Linked DNA regions of Homo sapiens: all the other regions are linked to region 4. Evidence: fine-mapped expression QTL. A gene starts in region 4. Each other region holds a variant in brackets. All regions are shown on one strand. Distances are from middle to middle.

Region 1 (5,115 bases), 68 kb after region 4:
GCTGAGACCCAGGTGAAAAAGAGGCAGCCCCAGGAATTGAACTGGCTGTGCCCAACATGCTGGCTCCAGCAGATGGTCTGACAGCCGGGTGCCTGTAGATGCCAGCTCAGATGGGGTCCCCAGAATGAAGCTTCACAGAAAAACAAATAAAGCAGCCACCGGAGGAAAATGCTGCAAACCAGAGAGCAAGGACAACATGGAAGATGCAGAGGAAGGGCTAACATCCGCCGCTTTCCACAGAAACCAGCAGAATGTTCTAGAAAATGACCTGTCATTCTCACTGAGATGCCAGAAAAAGATGGACCTTTTATGAGAGCAGAGCATCATGTCATTAGGAGAAAACAAGCTGCCGAGAATAAAGACACAAAAATGAGATGATGGACGAGGTGAGGAGGGCGAAATAATACACCAAAGGACTGAAGAGCAGAATCGACAGAAACACAGATTGTGACGTGGGTGCCACCTGGAGAAACACCCCAAGAATGCCTGGGGAAAGAGTCATGCCAAAATTAATTTCAGAAGCATAGGGAAGGCTCAAACTCACGAGACTCCAGCATTGCATACAAAGAACACAGTAATTGAAATAAACGTAATAATCCAAGATATCGCTGAAGAAAGCGTTCCTAAAGTAAAATATAAACCAAAATCAATGAGAAGAGCCCACACTTGGATAAGCTGCCAGAGACTCTGCCAGCATCCAGCCTCTCCCCCAGGGTTGCCTGAAAATACCCTGGGAGACCACAGGTCAGATGGGCAGCCCGTGACCCTCTCAGGAGACCGCAGGTCAGATGGGCAGCCCGTGACCCGCTCAGGAGGCCGCAGGTCAGGTGGGCAGCCCGTGACCCACTCACAGGCTTCTCCAGAGAACCCATCCCCCAAAATGACAAAATTCCATCACCCAAGAATGACCACACCTGGACAAGATCAGAACACAAAGACGCTCAGGTATGTGTGAATAATAATAATAATAATAATAAAGCTCATCCACCATCTCAAAAATAGTCTGCAAAATGGTCAGGTGCGGTGGCTCACACCTGTAATCCCAACACTTTGGGAGGCTGAGGCAGGTGGATCGCTTGAGTCCAGGAGTTTGAGACCGGCCTGGGCAACATGGTGAAACTCCATCTCTACAAAAATAAACGTTAGCCAGACATGGTGGCACATGCCCGTAGTCCCAGCTACTTGGGAGGCTGAGGCAGGAGGATGGTTTGAGCCCAGGAAGCAGAGGTTGCACTGAGTCAAGATTGCACCATTGCACTCTAGCCTGACCAAGATCTTGTCAAAAAAAAAAAAGTCTGCAAAAAGTTCTCCAGTACACCAAAATATGGATCAAAATTAAGAATCTGAAGCCAGCGGCAGTGCCTCACTTCTGTAGTCCCAGCAGCTTGGGAGGCTGAGGCTGAAGGATCCCTGGACTACAGGAGGTCAAGACTGCGGTGACCGGTGATGGGGCCACTGCACTCCAGCCTGGGCAACACAGTGAGACCGTCTCAAAATAAATAAATAAATAAATAAATAAATATTTAAATAAATATAAAATATTTTTTAAAATATATAAATATATATATATATATATGAATTTCGGATGGAAACTTCAAGCGCACTTGAGCTGGTTACGGCGGAAAATGAGCCCAGGTGGGGCTGCCCCAGGGCCAACCTGCGACAGGAAGCTGACCAGCTCCCCAGGTGCACGGAACCAAAGTACTTTGTCCGGTAGCACTTACTATACCAACAGGAACCTCACCCAATCCACTGTGGAAGTTCTGCATTCAGGGAAGAGAACAGCTCCCGATAGTTTGATGCTGTTCTGGAAAGCAAGTGCGCATGACTGTACGTAATAAAACAGCATGATCATTCCATACCCAACGGCCGCTCACCTGAGCAGAAGACGCCGGCGTCCTCCTTGTGCCTCCAGTCGTGCCGCCCCCAGCCCGCCGACGGGCACTGCCACAGCGCAGACTCGTGGCCCTGGCAGCCCAGCTCGTCCAGCCAGATGCGCCCTGCCCCGGCTCCGAAGTGTGCGGCCCCCAGGGCGCTCAGGGCGCGGCCACAGCCCAGCTGCCTGCAGACCACGTGCGCGTCCCGCAG[G/C]TCCCAGGCATCGTCACACACGGTGCCCCACGCGCCCCCGTGCAGCGCCCCGGCCCCGCGGCCAGCCGCACCCTGAGGCTCCCTGTGGAGAGACAGAGTCAGGGCGCCCGGGATCCCGTGGCGACGGGCCATGGGGGACGCGGTTCCGACCTCACCGGAGCACACCACGCCGGCGTCCCGCGAGGTCCCCGCGGGCTCCTGCAGGGTCGCGGACACGTTGCACTGAGTCAGGCGGGTTTCGGTGCCCAGACAGCGCACGCGGCTCAGCGCCACCTGGACGGATCCGCGGCTGGGGGCAGGTGCGTCATAGGCTTGCTGGGCCCCTCTGCACCCGAGTTGCCGGCACACCACGCCCGCGCCGCGCAGGTCCCAGGCATCGTCCAGGACGCGGCCCCACACGCCATCCAGGGAGACCTCCACGCGGCCGTCACAGCGGCTCTGTCCTTCCCTCAGTCGCAGGGCGTGGGCCAGACCTGGGGATGGGGACGCACAGGGGCCCAAGATGTCAGCGGGAGGGACCCAGGACCACCCCCCAGCAGGGCCCGTACCTCTCCGCCCCCTCTGTCCTTCCTTGCACTCCTCTGTCCATGCCTCTCACTCACCCTCCTGGTCCACCGTCCTGGCTGCACCCACCTGAGCAGACCGCGGAGGCTGTGTTTCCCGGGGCACAGGCCGGGGCCCCCAGGGTGCTTACTGGGCAATTCCACAAGTAGGACTCTGTCCCCTCACAGTGAAAGGCATCAGGCCAGATGGCAGCGTCCCCGTCCCCAAAATGGCCTCCTCCAGGTGCGGCCACCGCGTTGCCACAGTTGAGCTGGTGGCAGAGGACGGTGGCATCTGCTATGTCCCAGTGGGTGGCACAGAGGGGTGCCCAGGACCCCTGCACCTGGAACTCCACGCGGCCCTCACAGCTGCTGCTGCCGTTGACCATCCTGAACTCTGGGGGAGAGGAGGAGTCAGCCTGGCTTGCAGACGGCCGACCCAGAACATGGCTGTCTGTGGTCATTTCCTTCCTTCACACCCAGTGGGATGGGCACAGAGCCCAGCCTTGGTCTCACCAGCTCCCCCACCCTCCTCTGCATCAGCATCCAGCTCACACAGCTCTCCAGAAGAATTTGATCTTAGCTGCAGCCTTGGGGTACATCACTCTACACCCAGTCTCTTCCCTGCGCTTCTTTCAACCAACAGAAGCAAACATCAAAAGCACCCACACCTACTGGCCAGAGGCACCTTTAGGGCACGAAGGGATTTGACAGAGAACAAGGCAGGGCTGAGCCTTCAGAGCCCACACACAGGACTTCACCTGAGCACCTGAGCCCCGCGTCGTGACCATGCCCACACTGGCTCCCACGCCCCCGTGGGCAGTGGAACAGCAGCGACTCGTTGCCCGCACAGCGGAAGGCCTCCGTCCACACCGGCCCCGAGCCCCGGCCGAAGCGGGCGCCCTCGGGCGTGGACACGACCGCCCCACACTGCAGCTCCCGGCACACCACGTGGGCCGTGGCCAGGTCCAGGGCCGCATCACAGACGGTGCCCCAGGTCACCTCCAGGCGCCCGGCGCAGGGGTGCTCGCCGCCCACCAGTCGGGCCTCGGTGTGTCCTGGGGGCAGACGTCCTCTCAGGCAGGAGACAGGTGTTCTCAGGTCAACAGCCTGGCCCTGAGCCTCAGACTGCGGAAGGCTTCAGCCAGGAGCCATCACCTGCATCTAGGCAGAGGGTCTACCAAGCACAGGCAGGAACTTGCAGCCACAGGCCCTTCCACCCGGCACCCAGAGCAGAGCAGACGTCCTTGGCCGCATCACCAAGGTCAGGGTCAGGGTCACCTGCTGCAGGTGCTCACGTATTTCACAGCCTCTGCCTGTCCGAGGCCATGACAGCAACACCCTCTGCAATCCCAGAGGCGAGGTCAGGGCACCCCTTGGTCCACTGAGCACCACCCTCTCTGGGGTACCGCAGCAGGCAGACTATCCACCTCATTTCAGCTGCTCCTCATATGCACAACAAGGCCAGGAGCTGTGAGGCCAGTGCAGCTCACACACAGTTGAGGCAGGGCTGGGAAGAAGTGACCTCTACCCAACCCCGATCCATGTTAGACATGCAGAGATCACAGCTGAGGCAGCTCAGACTTGCAGCGGCAGCCAGGACCCCTAGATGGCCTGCGGGTTCTGAGCCAGGACACCTCTGTGGGGCCACCAGAAACTCAGCTCCACTCTGCTGAGAACCAGCGTGAGAGCTGAGGCCCTTTCCCACCTCTGCGCCCAATGTCTCATGCAGGACAGGGGGGCCCATCCGTGGGAACGCCCACCCCCCTTCTCCCTGCCCTCCCCAGGTCCGGGCCCAGCATCATCCCAAGGGTCACTGGGAACATCAGGTGGCAGCCTCACCTGAGCAGACCACCTCTGCGTCCAGCCGCAGGTCGCAGCCGCTGCGGAAGTTGTTGTCCAGTCTGCAGCTGCGGATGGTGGGCTCGGTACCCCTGCAGGCCAGGTACTTCCTGACGACGCCCACGTCCCGGCGGGGGGCCTGGAGCACAGGGCCGCACCCCAGCTCCCGGCAGAACACCATGGCCTCCTCCACATGCAGGACACAGAGGCGGTCCACCCCATTCACGTTTCTGATCTCGGGGAGTCCCGCGCAGGGACTGCGGCCCTTCACCAGCCGGAGCTCCCGGAAAGTGCCGTCTGTGGAGCACAGGCCGGTCCTCCTTAAGGTATGGACCCAGCTGGCCGCATGGTCACTCGGCAGCTCCTTTTTCAGGGAGGACAGTGATGGGCTGAGCCAGGGCCAGCTTCAGGGGCAGGTGACCGGGCAGTCACACAGGGCCCTGGGCTCAGAGAGACCCCTGTGCCCAGCTTCATGCTCTGCTGCTGGTCTCCTGAAACAAGGTTCCCCGCAGGATCCGTTCACACTGGGCCCCAAAATGGTAGGAGGTCCTGGCCAGGTGGTTCAGCCTCAGAGGCAGGACGCTATGAGGGGGTCCTCACAGCCACATAAAATGTGAGGGACAGCTGAGGACCCTCGAGCCAG
Region 2 (5,153 bases), 94 kb before region 4:
GAGTTTTGTCACTTTGGCCAGGTTGGCCTCGAACTCAGGTGATCTGCCAGCCTCCGCCTCCCAACGTGCTGGGATTACAGGCATGAGCCGCCTTACCAAGAAATTGCTTCTCTTTTAATCCAGAAAAGGTTGTAGGCTCTCACTCTTCCAGCCTGAACCCATGGAGTACTAATATCCACAAACCATTAATAGCACTCCCTGTGGGAAAATGTCTATATATTTTGTTTGATATAATTATAGTAAAATTACTATGCAAGCTGTTTACTTTTAATATTTCTACATAAAATTTAAGTCAAGATATAGTAAATGGTAAATGATTGTACTTATTTATTGACCTGCCTCATGTTTCATTTCATTTTAAACATCCTAAATTTATATTTTATTATATTTTATACATTTCAATTGATTGTACTATATTGCAGGATATGGAGATTTCATCACGTACTACAATACAGTGTATTTTGTTATATTTGACGTATATTCTACTTGTATTTTGTACTGAGATCATACACTATTTCATTATCTAAGTGTATTAATTGTTTGGTTGCTTTATAATTTTCATTTTATGTAATGAAATAAACAATGTTGTTTGGAATTTTAAATTTCTTTCATATGGAATTTGTATTTAATAAAAATGTGAAAAAGAGAATGTCTTATTGTCACTTCCGTGTCATCCTATCCCTGACCTCCCCACAGCCCACAGCTCTTGTCATAGTGCGGGAATAGTGTTCTATCACTACAGGAAATGGGGCCAATTCAATGGTAATATACAGATATGAATTGGAGATACAGAGATTTTATTCTCGAGCACTGCAGTATAAAAGAATCACAGTAACGCGAGTCACACAATTTTTGGGTTGACCCTGCTTATGAGTTATGCTTACACTCTGCTGTAGAATAACGCTGAAATAAATCATGTCTATTAAACAAATGCACATACATAAATAATGTGTCTAAATAACAATGTACATAATGAAAGTGAATTTTATTGCTAAAAAAATGTTAACACACAGATACACACAATGGGATCATATAATGTTGAAAAATAGAGATGGGGAGAGGAACAGAGACAGAGAGAAAGGGAGGAATGGAGCGAGAAAAGGACGGATGGATAGAGGGACATTGGAAAGGAGAAAGTGGGGAGCGGGGAGGGAGGGAGGGAGGGAGGGAAAGACAGAGGGAGAAAGGGAGCAAGAGACAGAGAGGAAAGCAGAGAGGAAAGCAGAGAGGAAAGCGGTCTTCCGCCTCCAGGGCCAGCGGGACCTCGCACTCCGGGAAAACGTGGGGTGCCCGGTGCAGGCCGAGAGCTCGGCCCACAGCCGCGTCTGCTTGCGGGGCGCCCACCAGCTCACCAGCCCTCCGGATCGCCGGCCCGGGTCACTTCATCCCGGAGCAATTCGGACGAATTCCGCCTCCCAAGGAATGAGAGCAATGAGCCGAGACGCGGGTGATTGTCCGTTTTCCATCCACGTGGTTCACAGACGACACGGCCCCGCGTTGAGCAACAGAGCGCGAGGCGGACAGGCCCGTCCACACGGGAGTCACACTCGGGCCGAGTGAACCGTGATTCCGGGTTCCACGCTCCTTCGCCCTCTGCAAGGGGCCTGTTGCTCGCGTGTCTCCCGCCCCCGAAAGCGCGACCACGTTGGCTGTTTCCCGAGCTCTGCGGGGACACAGAAACCTCCAGCGAAGCGTGGAAAAGCAGCATCGTGACTTCGCTCTCCTTTCCGGTTTCCAGACCGGCCACAGTGGAGACTCCCCTTGTTGCAGGAAACAGGAATCCGTGGTCAGGCCGTGATGCACCCGACGTTTCTTTTCTCTGCAGTTTCGCTCTCGTTTTCTACATGAAAACGAACGAGATCCACACCCCCGCGTGTGTGAGACTATCACGGCAACGGCGACACCCACAGAGGGCCTGGAAAACTCAAGACCGTCACGGAAGCTCAGTTCCACACTCCACCCTTCAGGGTGGTTTCTTTTAAACGAAATCTTCCTTTTTAAAAAAAAGTTGGTTTGGCCGGGCGTGGTGGCTCACGCCTGTAATCCCAGCACCGTGGGAGGCCGAGGCGGGCGGATCACGAGGTCAGGAGATCGCGACCATCCTGGCTAACACAGTGAAACCCTGTCTCTACTAAAAATACAAAAAATTAGCCGGGCGCGGTGGCGGGCGCCTGTGGTCCCAGCTACTCGGGAGGCTGAGGCAGGAGAATGGCGCGAACCCGGGACGCGGAGCTTGCAG[T/G]GAGCCGAGATCGCGCCACCGCACTCCAGCCTGGGCGACAGAGCGAGACTCCGGCTCAAAAAAAAAAAAAGTCTCAGTGGACCTTTGCAGTAATTATACTCCATTGTATACATGAAAACAAGGCTTTCTGGAAACGTGTTATTGATCAGAGGCAGCAGAGTGAGAAGCCAGTGTGTCATACTGTCCAACACACACTTCCTGCACAGCCCTGCCGTGCTCACTCATGACTTTCTGACAAACTGCCTTGTCACTAGGAAGCCCTTAATTTTCCTCTGTGCCTCCCTGAAAGAGGGCCTCCCCGTGAGTTAACAGCTGGAGGGGAATGAAAAAATAAGCTTTTTCTTAGCACAAAACCTTTTTTTTAACTTTTATCTTAGGTTCAGGGGTGCATGTAGAGGTTTATCACATAGGTAAACTCATGTCATGGGGGTTTGTTACGGAGATTATTTCATCACCCAGGTACTGAGCCCGGCCCCCAATAGTTCTCTCTTCTGCTCCTCTCCCCCTCCCACCCCCCACCCTCAAGTAGGCCCCAGTGTCTGGTGTTCCCTTCTTTGTGTCCATGTGTTCTCATCATTTAGCTCCCACTTACAGGTGACAATGTGCAGTATTTGCTTTTCTGTTCCTGAGTTAGTTCACTTAGGATAGTGGTCTCCAGGTCTGTCCATGTTTCTGAATAAGATGTGTTCTTCTTTTTTATAGCCGCATAGTATTCCATGGAGCATACGAACTACATTTTCTTGATCCAGTCAGTTATTATGGGCATTTAAGTTGATTCCCTGCTCCTGCAGAAGCCAGACTTCTGTGTATCACCGCATGGCCCCGTGACACAGGAAAATGCACGTCTCTGGGAGAGGATGGCCCTTTCTCATCCTGCATGGTGACAAGTTTCCAAAGTTCACGAGCATTTATTCAGCACCTGCTCTGAGCTATGCCGATGCTGCCACAGGACAGGTGGTGGGGACACAGCCTGCAGTAACAGAGAATGCCCTGCCCTCAAGAAGCTGTGTTCTTCTTAGGGGAGACAGACAACAAGCCAAGTCCTGGAGCCGCCTGCATGGGGAGTGAGCGAGGAAGAAATGTAATGAGGGGCAGGGAGCAGGGGAGAGCTTCACGCCCACCGCCGGGTCCACACTCTTGTGCTGTCCTCCCTTGGAGGGTCTAATTAGGACCATGTAAACTTCCTGGGTAGCTGACATCTATTTGGGTAATGTAGACTCTCTTGAGCCTTTCCAAGTTTTTTATCTTGTGATCATTGGTCAGAAGGCGTCTTTCACAAGTTAACAGGTGGGTTACGGTAGGATCCCCAGAGCTCCGGGCTTCCCCCAGCCCCACTTCATGGCCCCGAAAGAGACTCCACAGGTACCCTTTGAATCACCTGGACTAGATGACTCTTACAGATTCCTTTCCCAGTTGAATAATCCAGGGCCCCTTGAAAAGGTCTTGTTAAGCCAGAATCCCAAAACATACGTTTCATTTCTCTTGGGTTCCAATGCCTAGGGGTGCGATCGCTAGGTTGTATAGAGAAAGTGTATATAACTCTCTAAGAAGCTGCCAAACTGTTCTCAAATTATGCATTTATCAAAACCCACAGTATAAGCTAAAAGAGTGTTTTATTCTATGCAAATTAAGAAATGAATTTTTTAAAACCTACAGGTTTGGCAGTAAATGTGGTTGATGGTTGAGGTTGACCCCCTACCCCTGAATGTTGATTTTATTCTACTAGGGATGCTCAGTAAGGCATCAGGGCATGACATCCCCTGGAGATGAAGCAGTCCCCAGATCTGCAACTGGCCAGCTGGAACCCCGAAAGAGCTGATGGAGTTCATCCCAGTCTGAAGGCTGGGCACTCAAGACCCACAGAGCCTGTGCTTAGGTTCAAGTCCAAAGCCTGGAAAAGACCAAGGTCACAGCTCAAGGCAGCCAGGCAGAGCATGTCCCCAGCAACCCCCAGGACACATCAGTGGAAGCTGGAGGATGCCGGCCGCCTGGGCCTGGAACCTCAGAGCCTGCATTGAGGTTAATTTCACATGTCCGTCTGACGGGCCCACAGAGGACAGACATTTGGCCAAACATTATGCTGGGTATGCAAGAGGGGGCTCTGGGTGAGATTGACATTTGAATTAGTGCAAAGCTTTGGGAAAGCTTTTCAGTCCAAATGGCTGGCCTCAATTAGCATGGATGTGAACAAATCGGCAGACCTCCATGAGGACTGCTATGAACATTGGACCTGGCTCTAATGTGAGTGACAGAACATCTTAGCTGACTTACATGAGAACCACAGGGAATAACTGTACAGGACCCATGAGGACAGCTGTGAACACCTGGGCTGTGCACAATGAAGACAGCTACGAAAAGGTCGGTTGAGCTCAAGGAAAACAGCTCTTAAGCCCTGGGCAGGTCCCCCATGAACAACCAGCCAGAACACCTGGGCTGGCTGCCTTATTGATTGTTATGAACACCTTAGATCACCCAAATGAGAATGGCTGTGAACAACTGGGCCAGACCCAATGTTGACAGCTGTGAAAACCTGAGGGGGCCGAAAGAGGACAGCTATAAACACGGGGATTGGCTTGGATAAAGGTAGCTATAGTATCTTGGCTGGCCCAGTGAGCATGGGGTGAACACACTGGCTGGCCCTCAGGAGGATGGCTGTGATTAAGTGGGCTGTGCCTAGTGAGGACAGCTGTGAAGAACTTGGCTAGAAACAAAGAAGATGGCTATGGACAACTGGGGAGGCTGAGATGAGGGAAGCTGTTAGCAGCGGGGCTGGTCCCAATGAAGACAGCTATGAACACCTGAGACGGGTCAGATGCAAACGGCTGTGAGCACTGAGCTGCACCCACTAAAAAAAATTTAACAACTGGGTTTTCCCCAATGAGGAAGGTTGTGAACACCTGGCCTGCACCCAGAG
Region 3 (5,153 bases), 60 kb after region 4:
GAAGTTTATTATATGCTAATTATACCCCCATAAACCTATTAAAACAAAATCACAACATATCAAAACTCTTGGAATGCAGCCAAAGCCATGCTAAAAGGGAAAGTTATAACCTAAAATATATGCATTAAAAAAGAAAAAATGCTGAATATCAACAATCTGAATGTCCATATAAAAAAGCTAGAATAAGCAGAAGGAAATCACAAAGATGAGAACAGAAATAAACGAATTAGAAGGCAGATGTTCACCAAGAAAAATCAAGAAAACCAAAGGCACAAGCTCCACGTGCCTTGGAAAGACTAATGAGATGAAGCCGCCAGCAGCACCGGTCAAGAACAGCAGAGTGCCCAGAGTCCCAGCTGTGCGGGGGGCTGTGAGGGAGGATCGCTAGAGCCCAGGAGTTTGAGTCTGGTGTGGGCAACACAGTGAGACCTTGGTCTCGAAAAAAAAAAAAAAAAAGGAGAGAAGACACAAATTGCCACTATCAGGATTGAAAAATGCACATGACTACAGATTTTGTAGACATTAAGGCTAGTAGAAAGATACTATTAACAAATTTATATGGAAAAACTTGAAAATTTAGATTAAATGTACCAATTCATTTTTTAAAAGGACTGAACAAAGCAGATCTAATAGGAAATAGAGAATCTGAATACTTCAACTATTTATTTTAAAAAATTAAATCTGGAAAAAAAAAACCTCACTAAAGAGGAAACTCCAAGCCTAGAGAGCTTTACTAGTGAGTTCTTCCAACATTTAAGAAGAAATAAAACCAATGCTACATAAACTCTTGCAAATTTTTTTAAATTATTCTTTAAGTTCTGGGGTACCTGTGCAGAATGTGCAGGTTTGTTACATAGGTATACACGTGTCGTGGTGGTTTGCTGCACCCATCAACCCGTCATCTACCTTAGGTGTTTCTCCTCATGCTATCCCTTCCCTAGCCCCCCACCCCCTGACAGGCCCCAGTGTGTGATGTTCCCCTCCCCGTGTCCATGTGTTCTCATTGTTCAACTCCCACTTATGAGTGAGAACATGCAGTGTTTGGTTTTCTGTTCCAGTGTTAGTTTGCTGAGAATGATGTTTTCCAGCTTCATCCACGTCCCTGCAAAGGACATGAATTCATCCTTTTTTCTGGCTGCATAATATTCCATGGTGTATATGTGCCACATTTTCTTTATCCAGTCTATCATTGATAGGTCATCAGAGTGAACAGGCAACCTACGGGATGGGAGAAAATTTTTGCAATCTATCCATCTGACAAAGGGCTAATGTCCAGAATCTACAAGGAACTTAAACAAATTTACAAGGTAAAAGCAAACAACCCCATCAAAAAGTGGGTGAAGGATATGAACAGACACTTCTCAAAAGAAGACATTTATGCAGCCAACAAACATATGAAAAAAAGTTCATCATCACTGGTCATTAGAGAAATGCAAATCAAAACCACAATGAGATATCATCTCATGCCAGTTAGAATGGCGATTATTAAAAAGTCAGGAAACAACAGATGCTGGAGAGGATGTGGAGAAATAAGAACACTTTTACACTGTTGGTGGGAGTGTAAATTAGCAAATATTTTTTAAAAGAGAATATACTCCTAACTCTTATGAGACCTGAATAATCCTCATACCAAAAATTAAACAGAAATACTACAATAAAAGAAAAAAATTACACATCATTTTCTTTTTTAAACATTGACCCAACATATTACCAAACTAATTCCTGTGAAATACAAAAAGAATAATATATCATGATAAAGGTAAGTTTGTTTAACCCATGGTTAATTTAACATATGAAAATCAATCATCTATCATCTTAATAGATACAAAAAAGAATTTGATAAAAGTCAACACTTATGATAAAAAGCAAAACCCTTAACAAATTAGGTATAGACTGGGCTTTCCTTGATCTGATAAATAGCATCTACAAAACTGAACATCAAATATTATATTTCATAGTGAAATTAAATGTGGAACACATTTGCTCTGAGTCCTTGAATGAGACAAGACCTCCACTGGCTGCCTCTCTTCAACACTGGACTGAAGGGTCCCAGCCCCCGAAATAAGGCACAGAAAAAGAGATTAAATGTACACGGATTGGAAGGAGAAGATAAATCTGAATATTCACAGATGACATGATTACACAAGTAGAACATTTAAAAGATACTTTGGATTCAATTAAGAAGAGTTTTTAAGAAAAAAGAGGAAGGTTCTGGCATGGGGAGCTCTGCAACCCACTGCTGGGTGCCAGAAGCGAGCTGTGGAGCGGAAGATGAAGATGGCACCATGTGTCTCTAAACCACAAATGGAACCACTGATTTCTATGTGTATTTGCATTTGCTGTAATGTGTGGGAAATCTGAAGGTTACACAGCACAACTGTCCACAGCAGATGGCCCT[C/T]GAAGGGGATGAGGTTTAGAGCCAGGCAGGGCCTGGAAGGACTGGATTTTACATGGACATGGAGGACATTGCAAGAGAAAGGCATCCAAGGTGTTCTCACGAAATCCACTACAATTGTACAAGAAAATGAAGAGCTGTGATTTCGACAGCCAGCTGGTGTATCTCATCCTCAGGTTGCTTTACAACGTCATCTCCTCCAGAGGAAACGCAGCCTCGTCATATCCCTGAGAAACAGGTCTGCTGTGTCCTCCCTCCGCACGTATAGACTGTCCCTCCAGGAGGTTAGACACCTCCCCTGAAACTGGCGCAAGAGACACCGCGTGACCAAATCAGCACACGTGCAAGTTGTCCCCAGAGCACATTTGGCAAAGCCCGTAAGACAGGAACGCATAAACATGTCAACCAGAAAGCACCTGGCAATGTTCAAGGCATCCTGACATTGAAGCACCCCAAGCAGCCTGTGACAGCAGCACAGCTCCCACAGGTGATGAAACTGAGGCTGAGTGAGCTGCAGCATATGCCCCTGCCAGACCCGCGGCTCCCAGCACACCCGACCAGCCCTCTTCTCCCACCACAGGGCAGGCCTCTCCGATGGGGACTCCAGCCACTGACTCTGCCCTCATGGGTGTGGCCCTGCTCTCCCCTGCCCACGAGTCCCTTTGCATCCATGAGCCCTGTGGTCAGCAGCCTTCTGAAGCCAGGCTCCTGTGGTCAGAGTCCCTTTCCACTGCATCTTGTGGTCAGCATCCGTAGCCCACCCCAGAGCTCACCCCTGAGCTGGAGCACAAACCCACCTGCGGCTTCTGTGTCCACCTTCACCACACTTCCGTCCTCCTCATCTTGGAGCACAGCCTCGGCCTCCATGATTTCCTCGTACAGTCCTGCTGGCGGCATTTCCCCAATGACATCATAGATGGCTTCTCCAGGAGATACCTCGGATCTTCCCAGACCTGAGGCAAGGTGAGCATGGTCACACACAGGCCCTCAGTGTGGATGTGGCCACAGGCAAGGGAGGACAGCAACTCCAGGCAGGAACCCCAGCCAGGCAGCAAAGAGGCAGGATGCTGTGGGCTGGGATGGAGGGACCACGGCAACATAGCCAGACTCCCAGTGCCCTCCCATCCCTGGCCACCGTCCCTTGCCAGCAAACCACATGATGCTTCCCAGTGGGCCCCAATGTGCTGCCTGGGGGAACCTTCTAGGGTTGAGCTCAGTCTTGAGGGCTGGAGGCTGATGCAGATGTCTGCCACTCTCTCTGGCCAATAAAATGAGCCCTAAGTGAGATCAGCCTGCAGGCTGAAGCAACTCTGCCCTGAATGCTGATCCACCGTGTTGACTTCTGACCAACTCCAGTTCCGGGAAGGCCTCTAAGATTTCTATTTTATCTACTGTTCCTTGCATAAGAGCATGCATTCACTGTAAATCCTGCCCTTAAGCAATTGTCCTACATGTCCCCTTCCCCTGAGGTATATAAGTTCTAGTTGTGAGGGATGATAATATGGGCATCCACCGTCTCAGCTAGAGGCCATCCAAGGCATGGACATGGCTTGTCTTCATAAGTCCCTTTTAAGTGTTTCTTTCTAAGGAACTGGATTTGTCTGCCTCTTTCTTCAGCTTCTCAGTTCCTTGGACTTTGGGGGTAGGTCTGCATAGGCCTGACTGCTGTGGGGCACCCCGCCTGCCCAGACCCCAACACCAGGCTGGAGCTGTGAGCTGCTCTTGCTCCTGCACACCAGTTGATGGGATCAGGGTGGGCTCACGCTTACCCCTCTGCATGGCTTGTGTGACTCGAGGCAGAATCAGAAAAGCCATGAGGCCCAGAAGGAGAAGACCAAGAAGGGATCCCAGGACGACACTGACCACCCAGAATGTCCGGAAGGGAGCTGCAGGCAGTGGGGGGCCTGGGCCAGGCTCTGAGAAAGGAGAGGTCTTGAGCCAGCTGGGTGGTGGGGGGGACCTGCACACCCTCAGCAGGACAGGGTGGCTCCAAGGGCCCAGCCACACCCTCTCCCTCATGGAGGACCTGCGAGTCGGAAGTGCTGGGGGGGCATCTGCTGGTTTCAGCTGTGCAGAGCACCCCAAAATGGCTAGTGTCCACTGGGGGTGTCTGCTTTCAAGGGACAGCCCCCTTCCTTGGTAAAACATGGCCCCCAGGCAGATGCCAGGGCAAGTCACAAGAGGTGACCAGAGCACAGAGAATGGGAGTGGCTCAGGGAAAGTTACCACTGCTGCTGCTTTTGCTAAGGTCATCACTGTGGTTAACTGTTTGTTTTCTGCAAAGAGAATGAGGTGCAGGGAACAACTGAACCTGCCAACACCCAGGTGACACATACCCGAAATGAACAAGGATTGGAATAAACAAAAGGGAATTCCCAAAAAAGATTAGGGGGAAACCCCAGGGAGTGCATGTCCCAAACAGGCCTCCACAGCAAATCAGCCTATCCCAGAAAAATCCCAGGGTGGAAACCAACCCACTAACACCTGGGCGAGCTCTCCTGCCCACCGAAGTGACACTCAAGACTGACTCCATCCCAGCGCCCTCTGCCGGCCCCATGACCGACTTCCCACCGCCCCCCACTCACCCCAGCAGCGCACGCCCGCGTCCTCCTCGTGCGCGCGGTCTCCGCGTCCCCACCGCTCCGCAGGGCAGCCCCACAGGGACGCCTCGCTGCCCCGGCACCCCACCTCGTCCAGCCACACGGGCCCGGAGCCAGGGCCAAAGGCGGCGGCCCCCAGGGCGGCGACGGCCCGACCA
Region 4 (5,136 bases):
CCAGTCTGCGCCCTGCGGGTCATATGAAAATGAAACTTTAGACCCTCCAGGCAGAGGCAGCAAAGTCCCCTTGAGCCCCATCTGTGTTGATGTGAATTCCGCTCCCCTCCCTGCTGCCTCCGACTGTGCCTTGGACCCGTGGGTGGCAGATAAGGGCTCCCCGGAACCAGAACTGAGCTCCTCAACCACAGAACCCCAGAGCCTCCTCCAGTAATGCTTCTCCTGCGTTAACGACAAGGACTGAGATGGTTAATTTTGTTTTTGGCAACCCCAGAGAAGTAAAACCCACAATGCAGAAGAAGGAAAACCAAATGCCACTAATTGTGATACAACCACCCCGTTGCCCGCTTCCGGAGACAAGGTTCTGGACGCGGTCCTGGCGCGGGAACCTGAGCTGGAGCCGGCGACCCCCGCCCGCCACCAGCCCGCGCCCCGCAGAGCGCACGCTCAAGAGCGCGAACACCCAGCGTCTGCTCTGTGCTGACGGCGTTCTTTATCAGCTCATTTAATTTTTAGATTTGTTGGCCCATTCGACGTTCACAATGTTCAGAAATGTACGCTGGACAAATAAATAGGGCAAGAGCACGAGCTCACCGATTTAAAAATTCCACACAGCATTGCAAAGGTTTTCTGGAGCCTCGTCATCAAAGTTGACCCAGGAAGAAGTAGAGGCTTCCATGTGGGACACTGTTATTTCTAATCTACTTTGAAACCGCAGGGCAGGCAGGGAGGGAGGAAGGAGAAAGAAGCAGCAGGCCAGGTCTGCAGGCAGGAAGAGGAGAGCCGGCCGGCAGCCGCCGCCTCGCTGAGGTCTGAAGCCAGGAGGCTGGGAGAATGCGCAGATAAAGACGAGCCAGACCTCCAGACCGCAACCCTCCTCTCCCTAGAGAGGGAACAGGCCGCTTTCTGCTTATGCTGAACTCGGGGCTCTGGAGACAGGAAGCGTGGAGGAGACAGCAGAGGTGAGGCTGGGAGATAGGATTTCAGTGGGTCTCTTCCCCCTTCCCGGTCTCAGGACATCCACCCCAGCGGGACATCAGAGACTCCCTCTCTGGAGGTCACCAGCTGCAGCTGAGCAAAGCCCTGAAGCGAGCAGTGTCCGCAGCTTCCGACGCCTCAGCGTGGGTGAGGGGACCTCGGTGGACGAAGCCACCTGTACCCCGGCGGTTGAACAGGAGGGGAAAGCGCTCCCGGGAGGAGCCTGCGGGCCCAGAGGCGGAACGGTGGGGGTGGGGGCGGCGACTCCTGCTCAGAAGCAGCCCCGCCCATCCCCATAAACTCTCCCGCACAGTCGCCGAGAGGCCGGATTCCTGGGCGACTCAGTGCGCCTCGCTCCGCAGGCAACGCGCGGGGGCCATCGCCCTAATCCTGATCTCATCCTTCGGATGCTGTTACTATAATATTACTGTTAGTTTATTATTTGGCCATCGCCGACGTGGCTAGCGCCCGTAACTGTCCCGGGGCGTGTTATGCACCCCCCGCTCCGTGCCAGGGACGCGGACTCACCCCTGTCCCTGTGCGCATGGAACGCGGGGAGGTCGCCTCTGCCCGAGAACTCGTCCTTGTAGTCCAGCAGCGCTTCCTTCACCGCCTTGTAGCCGTGCATCACCACCATGCGCTGCGAGCCCACGTACAGCGTGAACACCGGCCCGAAGCGCTGGGCCAACTGCGGAGACCCGTGGCTAGAAGTCAGGCCCGCCGCGCGGCGAGGAGGTGCGGGGCTCTAAGCCACACCCCTGCCGGGCGGGTATTGCTGTTGCTCTAGAGAACCCAGAGGGACGTGGGGAAAAGCTGTCTTTGTCCAGCCCGAGGTGGGGGAGACCCTCCCCTCAAGAGGCTGCTGCGTCTGCAGGGCGCTCGGGGGGTTCCAGCTGCTCTGCTCCCCACCCGCCTGGACTCCGCGGACAACTCCGCGGCAACTCCGCGGACTCCGGCTCCTCACGTCCCTTCCCTCAGGCGCGCCCACCAACCACCCCGTTGCCCGCTTCCGGAATCAAGGTTCTGGACCCGGTTCTGGCGCGGGAGCCCGAGCTGGAGCAGGCGACCCCCGCCCGCCGTCAGCCTGCGCCCCACAGAGCGCACGCGCAAGAGCGCAAACACCCAGCGCCTGCTCCGTGCTGACGGCGTTATCAGTTCATTTAACGTTTAGGTTTGTTGGCCCATTCAGTGTTCACAACAGTCGTAGGCGGCAGGTATTGGTGCCACACGGGCTGGCCCAACACTTCACGTTTCAACTCGTGCTTTGGCAAACACAGGCGGACGCCCAGCGAGTGCGCATCTGGCCGCCAGCCCGGTTATCCTGGCGTCGCAGCAGCCCGGCCTCGCCGGCCTCCCCATCATCAGCCCCAGGACAAGGCACCGGCGGGGGCCTCCGGGGCCTGGCACGCAGGCTCCGGGCTCCAGCTGCACCACAGGCGACACATTTTGAGTGTCGCTCCAGGATGCTATCAATTCAGGTAATTCACAACAGGCTGGTATTGAACAACCACAATTTGTCTGCAAATGAGTTGAATACACACATACCAGATCCAATTGCTGAGTTATTCTCCCTAAAATCAACACTATTTCTCTTACCCGGGTGAAGGACTTGGGAATATTCTTCAATTCCAACTGGAAGAGGTTCCCGATGATGGGAAGCGGGAAAGGGCCTGGGGGCAGATTCCAGCTGCTGTGCACCTGCCTCCACATGGACACCAGCAGGAGGAAGGCCGCCCACACCAGCAGGGCCACGGTGACTCCGAGGGCAGACATGGTGCCGCTGGGGCCCTGCTGCCAGCCCGGGAGACAATCCTGTGGAAACGGAAGGTTTTTATAATGTGTTCTGAGAAGGAGGGTGACCCACCAACCAATGCCCTCTTGCTACTCGTCTATCCCAAATTACTGGTTTATTATTAGCTGCTGTTGGCCATCGTTTCAAAGGCTGATTCCCGCAATGGTGGCCCCCAGGGGTTCCAGCCAGTGACCTGGTGAGGATGGAGTTGGACTGTGTCAACACCCTGGTTGCTAGCACCTGTCACTGTGCCAGCAAACACATCCAGGAACATGTTGCCAACCCATAGTTAAGAACGTGGGGTGAGGTACCGTCCTGCCCTTTGGCACTGGTTAGACAACGGGGAACTCCAGCCACATCCCCATGCATTTGTTTGGAGTAGGGTTTATGTAATACAACTCCAACCCCATGCCGACCACCTCTAGACACGGTACCGGCCCTCCTGGTGCAACAGCCTCTTGATGTCTGATGAGGAGGTTTGTCTGAGCAGCCCCCAGTAGTACCTGAATCACCACCTGCCACATGAATGGGGCCAGAAGGAAAATTCAACATCGGAATTCGATTCCACTTTCTCAAGTTAACTGGAAAATTCCATGGAAGAAAAATAAAAGGAAAGAGTGAGTCAACCAATTCTGAGAAAGTTAATCTCTGTTTTCATTTTTTTTAAAGGTATATATTCTGGCTGTAGAAAATTAAGAAAAATTGTTCTTTGGAATTATTCCAAATTTAAATTCTTAAAAAATTACATTAGAGTTTTATTGGATTTGTTTTACATTAGGGTAAATTTAGAAGACGATTTTAAAGATATCTTGTCTTTGTTGATCCCGGGACACAATAGAGCTCCACATTGACTAGCTTCTTCTTTCATGTATTAATTATTTTCTTCATACAGACCCTCTTCCACCTTCTATGAAGGTAGTCCATAGGTATTTTGTGGAGCTTTTTTGTGTGTGTGGTTAGAATGAAGAGAATGTTTTTCATTCTGTCTTCTAACTGGCAATATATAGAAGTTCTTAATTCATAGGTTGCAATTTTGTACTTTTATATTAACAATGAATCTTTATGTATAATAGAAAATATGATGAGAAATGAAGAAAATAAAAGTCATTTACAATCCAGCCAAATCACTTGTGGATTTTGAGTTATGCCATTCTATACTTGTATTTATACAAAAATGAGACTACATACTATATATTGCATTCTAACCCAGTTTTTCTCTTGACAATTTATTAGCCACATAAGCAAGTCATTGGTTGTGCTGCACCTAACACTGCACCTCTCCTGAACCAAGAAGGGGCGTTGGCCTCTGGCAGAGGCTTCAGGGGCCTTTGCTTCCCTCTGGTTTTTGGCACCCCTCGAGGTGAGAACTGACAATGTAGACTCGACTGGCTCACGGGTGGGTTAGCCTGCCGCCTCCTCCTCTCTTTCCTTTCCAGTGGCCAGTGTGAGGTGGCAGGGACAATTCCCTGGGCAGAAACAGCTGTCCAGACCCCTGAACCCTGTTGTCCTGTGTGGGCCCAGCCAGGCCTGGCCGGGACAGACACCCATTGGGGTCCACAAGTTTCCTCGATTACTGGTTCCTTCTTCTAGTGCTTGAGAGCAGCAGAGTCAGCTCCCCACAGACTGAAATTGAAGCCTTGGCTTTGGTGGGGTGAGAACAGGAAGCATCAGGGTGGAGAGGCAGAGCAGGCCTCTGGCTCCCCTGGGCTGAGGACACCTTGTCTGTGCAGCTCACCTGAGTGTGCACATCCCAGGCGGGACCCGCGTGCCCTGGAGAGTCTGTGCCTCACAGGGATGCAGCTGTGGTCTGAGTCCTCTGGCCATAATACTGTTAGATGCCCAACCAACATCAAATTTTATATACGGGAACACCTCGTTTGAAAATAATGACATTTCTGTGTGCTTCTTTTCAGAAGCCGGGGCTTTTATTTGTTTTGCATCTGTCCCATTGGCAGGACACTCTAGGACAAGGTGAAATAATCAGGATGACAGAGTGCCTGTGCCTCTGCCCGTGACAAGGTGAAATAATCAGGACGACAGAGTGCCTGTGCCTGTGACAAGGTGAAATAATCAGGACGACAGGGTGCCTGTGCCTGTGACAAGGTGAAATAATCAGGACGACAGGGTGCCTGTGCCTCTGTCCGTGACAAGGTGAAATAATCAGGACGACAGGGTGCCTGTGCCTCTGCCCGTGACAAGGTGAAATAATCAGGACGACAGGGTGCCTGTGCCTCTGCCTGTGCCCGTGGCAGGGTGTTCTTCAGGCTTCCATCACGTCTGCTGTTGGCTGGGTGTGGCAAAGAGGTGACTGTATTGGGACAATTTTCTTCTTTCTCTAGATAACTAACAGTGTTTATCAGGGATGA

Which allele goes with the higher level. Alleles are on the strand shown, and positions count from the first base shown. SD is a standard deviation of normalised expression in the study named. Not every link is listed here.
For the expression in Th1/17 cells of the gene that starts at base 2,784 in region 4, allele C in region 1 goes with a lower level than allele G (large effect, 0.81 SD a copy in Schmiedel 2018).

What was found. PIP is the estimated chance that this variant, and not a neighbour inherited with it, causes the effect. A credible set is the group of variants that fine-mapping cannot tell apart.
Region 1: its variant is the best candidate, but not a certain one, in a credible set for the expression of CYP2E1 in Th1/17 cells (Schmiedel 2018, PIP 0.67).
Region 2: its variant is the best candidate, but not a certain one, in a credible set for the expression of CYP2E1 in prefrontal cortex (ROSMAP, PIP 0.85).
Region 3: its variant is the best candidate, but not a certain one, in a credible set for the expression of CYP2E1 in whole blood (TOPMed, PIP 0.82).

What each region holds. Positions count from the first base shown.
Region 1 is chr10:133,456,933-133,462,047 of GRCh38, reverse strand. It overlaps SCART1 (scavenger receptor family member expressed on T cells 1), which reads right to left. Exons shown (of 12, transcript NM_001396050.1): 3 at 4,473-4,769; 4 at 3,392-3,688; 5 at 2,722-3,027; 6 at 1,878-2,561. Among named protein-coding and RNA genes, the nearest start is that of SCART1, 5.5 kb to the right of the region's middle. The variant G/C (reference allele first, on the strand shown) is at 2,089.
Region 2 is chr10:133,619,391-133,624,543 of GRCh38, reverse strand. It overlaps FRG2B (FSHD region gene 2 family member B), which reads left to right. Exons shown (of 4, transcript NM_001080998.2): 4 at 1-649. Among named protein-coding and RNA genes, the nearest start is that of FRG2B, 4.8 kb to the left of the region's middle. The variant T/G (reference allele first, on the strand shown) is at 2,240.
Region 3 is chr10:133,465,393-133,470,545 of GRCh38, reverse strand. SCART1 (scavenger receptor family member expressed on T cells 1) reads right to left here. Exons shown (of 12, transcript NM_001396050.1): 9 at 4,981-5,153; 10 at 4,165-4,311; 11 at 3,193-3,348; 12 at 786-2,699. The coding sequence ends at 2,578. Among named protein-coding and RNA genes, the nearest start is that of SCART1, 14 kb to the right of the region's middle. The variant C/T (reference allele first, on the strand shown) is at 2,399.
Region 4 is chr10:133,525,011-133,530,146 of GRCh38, reverse strand. CYP2E1 (cytochrome P450 family 2 subfamily E member 1) reads right to left here and starts at 2,784. Exons shown (of 9, transcript NM_000773.4): 1 at 2,575-2,784; 2 at 1,507-1,666. The coding sequence starts at 2,751. LOC105378575 (a long non-coding RNA gene) reads left to right here and starts at 3,188. Exons shown (of 5, transcript XR_946512.3): 1 at 3,188-3,387; 2 at 4,004-5,136. RefSeq lists cis regulatory regions at 3,081-3,105, 4,331-4,337, promoters at 2,777-3,330, 2,689-4,146, 2,777-5,136 and enhancers at 3,331-3,458, 3,747-4,159.